Linked DNA regions of Homo sapiens: region 1 is linked to region 2. The links come from fine-mapping of genetic effects on gene expression. Tissue or cell type: whole blood. Region 2 holds a variant in brackets; the other region holds the start of a gene. All regions are shown on one strand. Distances are from middle to middle.

Evidence for each region. PIP is the estimated chance that this variant, and not a neighbour inherited with it, causes the effect.
Region 1: it holds the start of UNC93B1, and the variant in region 2 is the best candidate, but not a certain one, in a credible set for the expression of UNC93B1 in whole blood (INTERVAL, PIP 0.61).

What each region holds. Positions count from the first base shown.
Region 1 is chr11:68,001,396-68,006,562 of GRCh38, reverse strand. It overlaps UNC93B1 (unc-93B1 regulator of TLR signaling), which reads left to right and starts at 2,466. Exons shown (of 11, transcript NM_030930.4): 1 at 2,466-2,615; 2 at 2,765-2,906; 3 at 3,388-3,541. The coding sequence starts at 2,520. RefSeq lists enhancers at 1,423-1,965, 1,966-2,509, 3,414-3,463, 3,564-3,613, 3,714-3,913 and silencers at 2,344-2,643, 2,704-3,113.
Region 2 is chr11:67,971,993-67,977,311 of GRCh38, reverse strand. It overlaps the pseudogene OR7E1P. Among named protein-coding and RNA genes, the nearest start is that of UNC93B1, 29 kb to the left of the region's middle. RefSeq lists an enhancer at 4,747-5,247. The variant A/G (reference allele first, on the strand shown) is at 3,172.

The DNA.
Region 1 (5,167 bases), 29 kb before region 2:
GGGAATCACGTGGGCTGCCCAGCACGCTCCTGTGTCAGTGCAATGCGGGGCAACAATATTCCAAGAGGTTGTTTCAGGGAGTTCCAGTTGAGAGCAATATTTATTCTCTTCTGCTTGCTTTTCTGCAAGGAACATCGATTATTTTCATAATGAGAACTGAAAGTAAAGGCTTATTATAGAGAAAAGCATTGGCAAACAGTGAGCACGGGGGGATCTGGCCACCCCTTCCTGGGGATGTGACTGTGCACTGTTGCAACCTGGATGGGTTGGTGGAGGTGCTGGCCCTGCTCAGATCTCTGTCCCGCAGGTCACCCTGGTGTGTTTATCTGGGCCACCCTATCAGCCTCTTAGATAGTCTCCAGGCTCCCCAAGAGCAGCTCCATAAACCACCTAAAAAAAAAAATCCTTTCTGGAGAGAGGAGGTGTATCAGTCAGGGTTTAGTGCCTCCAGGGCTGTTTTTTGTTTTTTTTGTTTTTTGTTTGTTTGTTTGTTTGAGAGGTCTCACTCTGTCACCCACGCTGGAATGCAGTGGCACAATCTCAGCTCACTGCAGCCTCATCCTCCTGGGCTCAAGCAATTCTCCCACCTCAGCCTCCTGAGTAGCTGGGGCTACAGGTGTCCACCATCACACCAGGCTAGTTTTTGTATTTTTTGTAGAGATGGGTTGGGGGGGGGGGTTTGTCTCACTTTGTTGAGGCTGGTCTTGAACTCCTGAGCTCAAGTGATCCTCCTTGGCCAGCCAAAGTGCTGGGATTGCAGGCGTGAGCCACAGCGCCCGACCCTCTCCAGGTGTTTTGAGTAGGAGACATTGAGTGCAGGGAATTGGTGGTACAGCACAGGTGATGGAAGAGCCCAGGATGGGCAACCATAGCAACCGCCACAACCCCCAGGCCCAGAGGAACAAGGGGAGGAAGAGATTGCACCAGGCCCCAGAAGTTTGGGGTCCCTCAGGGAAATTGAGAAGCTCGGGGGGCCCACTCCCAGCACTTTGGGGGCTAAGGCGGGTACATCACTTGAGGTCAGGAGTTCGAGACCAGCCTGGGCCAATATGGTGAAACCCCATCTCTACTAAAAATACAAAAATCAGCTGGGTGTAGGGGCACACGCCTGTAATTCCAGCTACTCACAAGGCTGAGTCAGGAGAATTGCACTTTCTCATCATACTGTGTAATGATGCTGGTGTCTGCCATCTGAGAACGGCCCCCGCCATAGCCATACTCTCCCACCTCCTCCCTGCCCCTGCGCCTCGGGCCCTGCCCTCTCTTCGGCTCCTTTCCTGTCTCCCACTTCCAGCCACCCACCTGCATGAATCCACCTGTCTGTTCCCCACATCTGCACTTGGGCATCGTCACCTGGAGAAAGTTCTACCTCCTGGAAGCCTGAAGCCACTGCAGATTCACGCCTCCCCCCACCTTCCCAGCAATCCTTGCGGGGTGGGAGGTGTTTGTCATCCAGTCACTCATGCACCCATCCAGTCACAAGTATTGATCACTCAGTAGGTGCCCAATGCCATCCTCTGCATTTGGGAGAGGATGTACCTAAAGAGCAGTGGGTGGAGGGGGGTGCACAGGGAGGGCATGGAAAACCAGAAGGGAAGTGAAGGGACTGCATTCTCTGCAGGGATGGTCTCTTGTTCTGAGAGCTGAGTGGGAAGGAAGCCACCTGGGAGGCGCAGCAGGAAGAGCATTCAAACCAGAAGGAACCCAGGGGAGAGAATCTGGATATTTTCAAAAGTGGCCCCGTGGCTCCAGCCAGGTCGGTGGTAGCCAGTGCTTTGGAGTGTCGGCCCCACCACAGGCTCCCGCTGCAGCCCGGGATCCAGTGCCCAGCAGGATGGGGGCAGGTGGCTCTGGGCCCCACTACATGGTTGTGGCAGGGTCCCCCATGTAGTTCAGTGGGGATCACAATCTCCACCTCCCAGGACCCACTCAAGCTCCCATTTGCACAGCCCAAACTGGAGCAGGATGGGGACATGGGAGGTGGGCTCTGGCTGTAGCGTCCGGTGGTGGGAGGTGGGGTCCAGGTGGTGACGCTACTGTCCCTGCAGTGCTCTTTGATGAGCTGTAACAGCAGGCTTGGAGGTGGGGCTGGGGACGACCCAGGCAACCCTGAGGGGAGCTTAAGGGAGCCAGGCAACCCTGGCACTTTTCCAAGGCTTTGCATTAACTCAATAGTTCCGCCATGGCCCCGGGGGTAGTGCCATGTATTTCTGTTTTACCGTCGAGGAAACGGAGGAAACCGAGGCACAAAGAAATGGAGTTAATTCCTAAAGTCACAGGGCCAGGAGGTGGCTGAGTGGGGATTCGAACTCACACCCCAGAGGGCACACACAGGCAGGCCCCTGCACACACGCGCGCGCGCGCGCGCACACACACATACACACACACGTGTCCTGGAGGAGGCGGCCCGCAGGGCGGGACAGGGCGGGGCGGGGGCAGGTCCCGGCCGCCGGGAGGAAGTGGCCGGGCGGTCGCAGGGACTCCGGGGCGACCGCCGCGAGTCCGCAGTAGTTCGGGCCATGGAGGCGGAGCCGCCGCTCTACCCGATGGCGGGGGCTGCGGGGCCGCAGGGCGACGAGGACCTGCTCGGGGTCCCGGACGGGCCCGAGGCCCCGGTGAGCGGGGACCCGGAGTGCGAGGCGCGGGCGTCCCCTGTGGGCCAGGGTCCCCCCGGCGGGGGCGGGGCGGGCCGGGGGGCGGCGGGCACCGGGGGACACGGGTTCGGGGCGCGATCGCGGGTGCGAGCGGCGTGCGTGGCTCGCAGCTGGACGAGCTGGTGGGCGCGTACCCCAACTACAACGAGGAGGAGGAGGAGCGCCGCTACTACCGCCGCAAGCGCCTGGGCGTGCTCAAGAACGTGCTGGCTGCCAGCGCCGGGGGCATGCTCACCTACGGCGTCTACCTGGGTAGGTGCCGCTCGGGGACCCGGGGCCGCCCCGCCCGCTCCCAGCCCGGCCCGGGAAACAGAAACCGCGGGCCGCCGCCTCCCGCCCGCTCTCACTTCCCCTCCGCTGCCCTCGCAGCTGCAGCCACGGCCCCCCGCGGCGGGGGTGGGGTTGGGGGGTCAAGTAGCGCAGCGTCCCCGGGTCCCAGCCAGAGCCTCGGTGTGGGTGGGGGACGGGGGTCCGGGCTCCCGGACAGACCTGCCACCGTCAGAATTGGAGGCCGGCGGAGCAAGGCGGGTGGGGGTCTGGGCTTAGCTGGCCAAGTGGCCGCGGGCTGGCAGAAGGCGTGGCGCAGCCCGGGAACCCCGCTGTCCTGAGGGGCGCTGTCAGCGGGAATGCCTTCGGTGATTGGAGCTCCCTGCGAGGCCTGCATGCCGTCTTCTGCTCGGTGGCGCCCAAAGCTAGGCTGCTCCCTGCACGCCGCTCTCTGTCCTGTCCCCAGGCCTCCTGCAGATGCAGCTGATCCTGCACTACGACGAGACCTACCGCGAGGTGAAGTATGGCAACATGGGGCTGCCCGACATCGACAGCAAAATGCTGATGGGCATCAACGTGACTCCCATCGCCGCCCTGCTCTACACACCTGTGCTCATCAGGTGGGCGCGGCTGCTCCTGTGGGATGCTGCGGTACTCCCATTTCGGAGGGGTACAGAGGCCGGCGGGCCAGGAGGTGTCCATCTGCCGGGGTGTTTGTGGGGCGAGGGAACAAGGGAGAGGTTTTTTTCTACCCGGAAGCCTGAGAGTGAAGGGGGTGAAACTCGGATTTGGGGAAGGAAACAGGAACTTTGCCTCAGGGCACATTTGGTTTCCAGCAACAGATTCACACGGGCTGAGCTCCCTCCCAGCTTGCCTGGGCCTCACGTGGCACCCTCCTCGTGGCCTCCTTGGAGGCCTCCCAGAGCCACTGTGGCCTTCAGGGTTGGGGCTGTAGAGTTAGGGGTTTCTGATCGGTCAGCAAAGTCCAGGCACCCATGCCTGGCCCAGTCGCTGTGACTGGTGCTGAGGGGGTGTTTCTCACAGACAGGCATGGCTGGGCAGGTGCCCCAGAGCTCTCCCCCAGATCTGAGCCCTGGAGGTATGTGGTTCAGCCTCCCCATCACCGGTCCACAGTGCCCTCCCTGATGGGACCTGGAGACCAGTGGACAAATTAGGTGAATTTGAGCTCCCTCATCTTTAAAACAAACAAACAAACAAAACAACAAGAGAAAACTCCATTTAAACAAAAATTTGAAAATTTAAAACATCTCCCGTTGCACAGGCAGGATTAGAATAACTGAAATCATAAAAAAGAAACCCCATCTAAGCCCTCCAGGAAATCGGCTACCCATGCTGTCCCACCAGCATGCATGGATTACATTCACATCCTTGTCCCCAGAGCACGTGTGTGGACGTGCCCGTGTGTGTGTGTGTGTGTGTGTGTGTGTGTGTGTGTATGCAAGCGGGCTATGTTTGCTTTTGCTTGCTTACTTTTTTTTTTTTGAGACAGATACTTGCTCTGTCACCTAGACTGCAGTGCAGTGGTGTGATCTCGGCTCACTGCAACCTCTGCCTCCCAGGCTCAAGCGATTCTCCTACTTCAGCACCCTGAGTAGCTGGGATTACAGGCGCCTGCCACCCGGTTAATTTTTGTACTTTTAGTAGAGATGGGGTTTCACTATGTTGACCAGGCTGGTCTTAAACTCCTGACCTCAAGTGATTCTCCTGCCTTGGCCTCCCAAAGTGCTGGGATTACAGGCATGAGCCACAGTGCCCAGAGCTTGCTTCCTTCTTTTCACTGAGCATATCTTAGCCTACTCTACAGCCTTCACAGTTACGACTTTGCAATGGTAGCATCTTCTGCAGATACGGTGGCACTGAACAGTGGCTTGGAATTGGACACTGCAGTTCCTTCTGTGCTTACATCTGTTTCCTTGTTTTTTTTTTTTAAATTATGTGTTTATTTATTTTATTATTATTATTATTTGAGACAGAGTCTCACTCTGTCACCCAGGTTAGAGTGCAGTGGCACGAACACAGCTCACTGCCTCCTCAACCCCCACACACTGGGCTCAAGCAATCCTCCCACCTCAGCCTCCCGAGTAGCTGGGCCTACAGGCGCACGCCATCACATCTGGCTGATTTTTAAAGTATTTGTAGCGATGGGGAGTTGCTATGTTGCTCAGGCCAGTCTCAAATTCACCCGCCCCAGCCCCACAAAGTGTTGGGATTACAGGTGTGAGCCA
Region 2 (5,319 bases):
CACAGGGGTGTGTACACCCCCTGCGATATTGGGAGTAATATCATCCTCTCCACCAAGGAAATGACAAACAAGGTCATGGGGGGTGAACTCCCCCTGAGATATTGGGAGTCATGTCATCCTCCCCAAACCTGGATGTTAGCAACGAGATCACAGAGGGGGTGTACACACCCTGCGATATTGGAAGTAATATGATCCTCTCCCCACCTGGATATGGGGAAAGATATCACAGAGCGGGTATACATTTCCTACGCTGTTGGGAGTAATATCATTCTTTTCCTTTCTGGATATTAGGAAGAATATCACAAGGGTGCTGTACAATTATTTCAATATTGGGAGTACTATCATCTTCTATTTTCCTGGATATTGGGCCCAATAACACAAAAAGGTGTACAACCCCTGCTATATTGGGAATAATAGCATACTCTCCTTCCCTGGATGTTAGAAAACAATATCATCAGGTCTGAACACCCCTGCGATAATGGGAGTAATATTGACTCTTTCACAGGCCATTTGGTACAATATCACAGGGGGTGTTTACAGACAGGGGTGGTGTACACCCCCTGTGATATTGGGAGTAACATCATTCTCTCCACCTACTGACAATAAGAACAATATCCCGGAGGGAGGTGGTACACCCCCAGTGATATTGGGAATAATGTCATCCTCTCCTTCCCTGGATATTAGGAACAATATCACAACGGGGTGTACACCTTCCGTGATATTGGAAGCAATATCATCCTCTCCCCCGCTGGATATTAGAAAAAAAATCACTCACGGTGTACACCCACTGTGATATGAGGAATAATATCTTCCTAGAGTATTATGAATAATTTCACAGTCTGCACACACATGGTGTACACTCACTGTGATATTAGGAGTAATATCTACCTAGTAGAAAACAAATAACATCGCAGGGTGCACACCCATTTTGATATTAGCTGTAATATTTTTCTAAGTTGTTACAAATAAGATCACAGGGTGTACAAACATGGTGTACACTCACTGTGATATCAGGAGTCGTATCTCTGTAATATATTATGAATAATATCACAGGGTGTACACCCACTGTATTATTGGGAGTAATATCTCTGTAGGATATTACAATTAAGATCACAGGGTGTACAGCCACTGTGATATTAGGAGAAATATCTTTCTAGGATATTACAAATAATATCACAGGGTGTACGCCGACTCTGCTGTCAGGTGCAATATCTCCCTAGGCTGTCAAAAATCCTATCACAGGGTTTCCAATCTCTGCCTTCCAGGTTCTAAGGGATTCTCCTGCTTCAGCCTCCCGAGTAGCTAGGGTTACCCGCCACCACACCCGGCTAATGTTTTTTTATTTTCACTGGAGACGGGGTTTCACCACGTTGGCCAGGCTGGTCTGGAACTCCTGACCTCAGGTGATCCATCAGCCTCGGCTACCCAAAGTGCTGGGATTACAGGTGTGAGCCATGGTGCTGGGCCAAGAGTTATAGATTCAATTCATTTGGAAACACAGCTCCCATCTTTGAGCGTGCATGTACTTTTATGAAGAAGTGATGTCAGAAAACCGAAGGATGATAATAAATATGAAAAGTAACAGGCATGTGAAAATCTTTCGATTGAGAACTATAAGGTTCGATGTCGTTTTCAGATAATGGGGTCCTAGCTCTTGTGTCGTCCTTTTACATATTCTACATCAATGGAAGTTGTAGCACGGGGTCAGAATAAAGTAGAGTGCATTTCACGGCTTCTTAATTTCTTTCAATTAGACTGAGATCTTTTTCTTCAAGAGAAAGGACATTGTCATTGCATTGTATTTTTTCTGAAAAGAGTAGGCCGTATTTTACTGAGATCACGGATTTGTTATATATAACGTTTTGGTCTCTGATATTCTTCAGTGGATTTTCTCTAAAGTAGTATGTACAGAAAGCCTTGTATAGCAAAAAAGTAAATCACGTAATAATTCTGAGATTTTTTGGAATTGTCACAACTGAGAAACATTGCTGGCGGTGTATGGTCCGCAAGTGTGAAGATGTTCCTTGTGAATTGCTTGCATCCAGCATTAAGGGCTGGTTTTTATCTGCTATTTTTCCAATCCTCTTTCCTTCTCAAGGTGTCCAAGACACACAGAGCCACGGAATCTCACAGGTGTCTGAGAATTCCTCCTCCTGGGACTCTCAGAGGACCCAGAACTGCAGCCTATCCTCGCTTTGCTGTCCCTGTCCCTGTCCATGTATCTGGTCACGGTGCTGAGGAACCTGCTCAGCATCCTGGCTGTCTGCTCTGACTCCCCCCTCCACACCCCCAGGTACTTCTTCCTCTCCAACCTGTGCTGGGCTGACATCGGTTTCACCTCCGCCACGGTTCCCAAGATGATTGTGGACATGCAGTCGCATAGCAGAGTCACGTCTCATGCGGGCTGTCTGACGCAGATGTCTTTCTTGGTCCTTTTTGCATGTATAGAAGGCATGCTCCTGACTGTGATGGCCTATGACTGCTTTGTAGCCATCTGTCGCCCTCTGCACTACCCAGTCATCGTGAATCCTCACCTCTGTGTCTTCGTTTTGGTGTCCTTTTTCCTTAGCCTGTTGGATTCCCAGCTGCACAGTTGGATTGTGTTACAATTCACCATCGTCTAGAATTTGGAAATCTCTAATTTTGTCTGTGACCCCTCTCAACTTCTCAAACTTGCCTGTTCTGACAGCGTCATCAATAGCATATTCATATATTTCGATAGTACTATGTTTGGTTTTCTTCCCATTTCAGGGATCCTATGGTCTTACTATAAAATCATCCCCTCCATTCTAAGGATTTCATCGTCAGATGGGAAGTATAAAGCCTTCTCCACCTGTGGCTCTCACCTAGCCGTTGTTTGCTGATTTTATGGAACAGGCATTGGCATGTACCTGACTTCAGCTGTGTCACAACCCCCCAGGAATGGTGTGGTGGCATCAGTGATGTATGCTGTGGTCACCCCCATGCTGAACCTTTTCATCTACAGCCTGAGAAACAGGAACATACAAAGTGCCCTGTGGAGGCTGCACAGCACAACAGTCGAATCTCATGATTTGTTCCATCCTTTCTCTTGTGTGGGTGAGAAAGGGCAACCACATTAAATCTCTACATCTGCAAATCCTGCCCCTTAGTCACATTCTTTCTGTGGCTTGATGGCTTTTATTCCTTTCC[A/G]CATTTCCTTTGTGAATATTGCTTTCTTCGCTATGCCTTTCACTGGAATGGGTGAGGATTCTGGGACCCTTTGTTTAGCAGAAACCTCATGACAGAATCCTCTATACCTAGGTGGCCTCTTTTAGTTTCTGAGCAATAACCCTGTCATCCAGGTGGAATCACAACCATCTTTTTATATACACGAAGTCCTCACTTCCTTTTGGAATTCCCTGAAAACTGACTTTATGGAAACAATGTACAGGAGGTCCTCCAACACCATCAGTTGTTCAAAGATGTGTAGTTATACTGTTGATGAAAAATAAGTGGTTTCACTATACATAATTTTGCTTAAAGGTGAAGTTTCCAAGAGACTTTCAAAGATGTTAAGTGAGGACATGCTGTACATCAAATTCATATCCTCTTCCACAGTCCACGTGGAATATCTTTATAAACTGCTTCTAGAGAATCTATTTAGGCAGGTTCTGTGTAGAGATCCATGTCGCCATTCCTCAATCTTGGCTTTGAGTCAAATCACCTGGGGAGCTTACAAATGATGAGGCCTGGGTCTCAATACCTGAGATTCTGATTTCCTTGCACCTGTGTGAGTATGTGGATTTTTTTTTTTTTCTTTTAAAGCACCAGAGGTGGTTCCAATGACGAAGTTTTTAGAGGCATCAAGCTCCAATGAGTAAGAACAGAAATTAATTGTAATATGATTTCTTCAAATATTATCTTCAAATGCATTGTCCATCAACACCATACAAATGTTTATTATGTTGTTGTTTCTTACCATTTCGCATTTTCTATTTCTTTCTTTTCCTTATTTTTTGAGTCAGATTTTCACTCTTGTTGCCCAGGCTGGAGTTCAATGGCACGGTCTCGGCTCACTGCAGCCTCTGCCTCCCGTATTCGAGCAATTCTCCTGTCTCAGCCTTCCAAGTACCTGGGATTACAGGCATGCGCTACCATGCCTGGCTAATTTTTTTTTTTTTTTATATTGTTAATAGAGACAGTGTTTCTCCATTTTGGTCAGGCTGGTCTTGAACTCCCGACCTCAGGTGATCCGCCCGCTTCCGCCTCCCAAAGTGCTGGGATTACAGGCATGAGCGACTGCGCCCAGCCACCACTTAGCATTTACATTTTACATTTGTTGAAGTTGTAGATTTATACACACATTGATTGCTGCTTTGTTATACACTTGCATATACATAAGATAGGAAATAGAAAAGAATAAAATGGACACAGTATCCCTGAGGTTTCACATTCTGAGACATTTTAAAAATATTTGCTCTTCAGAAATTTGTTTCAATGAAGAAACTGTGGTATACACACCCAGTGAAGTATTATTCAGCCGAAAAAGGAAGAAACTCCTCTCCGCTGCAGACAAAATGGATGAGATTGCAGGTCTGTATATTAAATGAAAGAAGCCAGGCACAGAATGACAAATATTTCATGTCCTCACTTCTATGTAAGAAGAAAAAAGGAAACCTTGGCCAGGTGTTGTGGCTCAGGCCTGTAATCCCAGCACTCTAGGAGGCCGAGTCGCACGGATCACTTGAGTCCAGGAGTTCGAGATCAGCTTGGCCAACATGGTGAAACCCTGTCTCTACGGAAAACACAAACAATGAGCCGGGCGTGGTGACGCGTGCCTGTAGTCTCAGCTACTCAGAGGGCTGAGGCCCAAGAAGCGCTTGAACTTGGGAGGTGGAGCTTGCAGTGAGCCCTGATTGTGCCTGTGTACTCCAACCTGGGTAACAGAAAGAGACTCCATCACACACCTACACACAAAAGGAATCTCAGGAAGGTGGAAAGTATAAAGGTGATCAGCAGACGCTAGGAAGAAAAGGGGTGCGATAGGGAATGAAGACAAGTGGATAATTGGGTCCCAAAATACAGAAAGATGGAATAAGTGAGTTCCAGTGTTTCATAGCACAGTATGAAAATTTTACTTCACAAGAATTGCTTGCATATTTCCAGATGCTTTGGTAAGAAACTTCCTAACTTTCTCATTATGCTGGTTTTTAAGCTCTTCTCTTTCTGCTCTTGAAATCATGCTGGTTTTTTGTTTTTGTTTTGAGATGGAGTTTCGCTCTTGTTGCCCAGGCTGTAGTGTCATGGTGCAATGTTGGCTCACCGCAACCTCTGCCTCCTGGGTTCAAGCGATTCTCC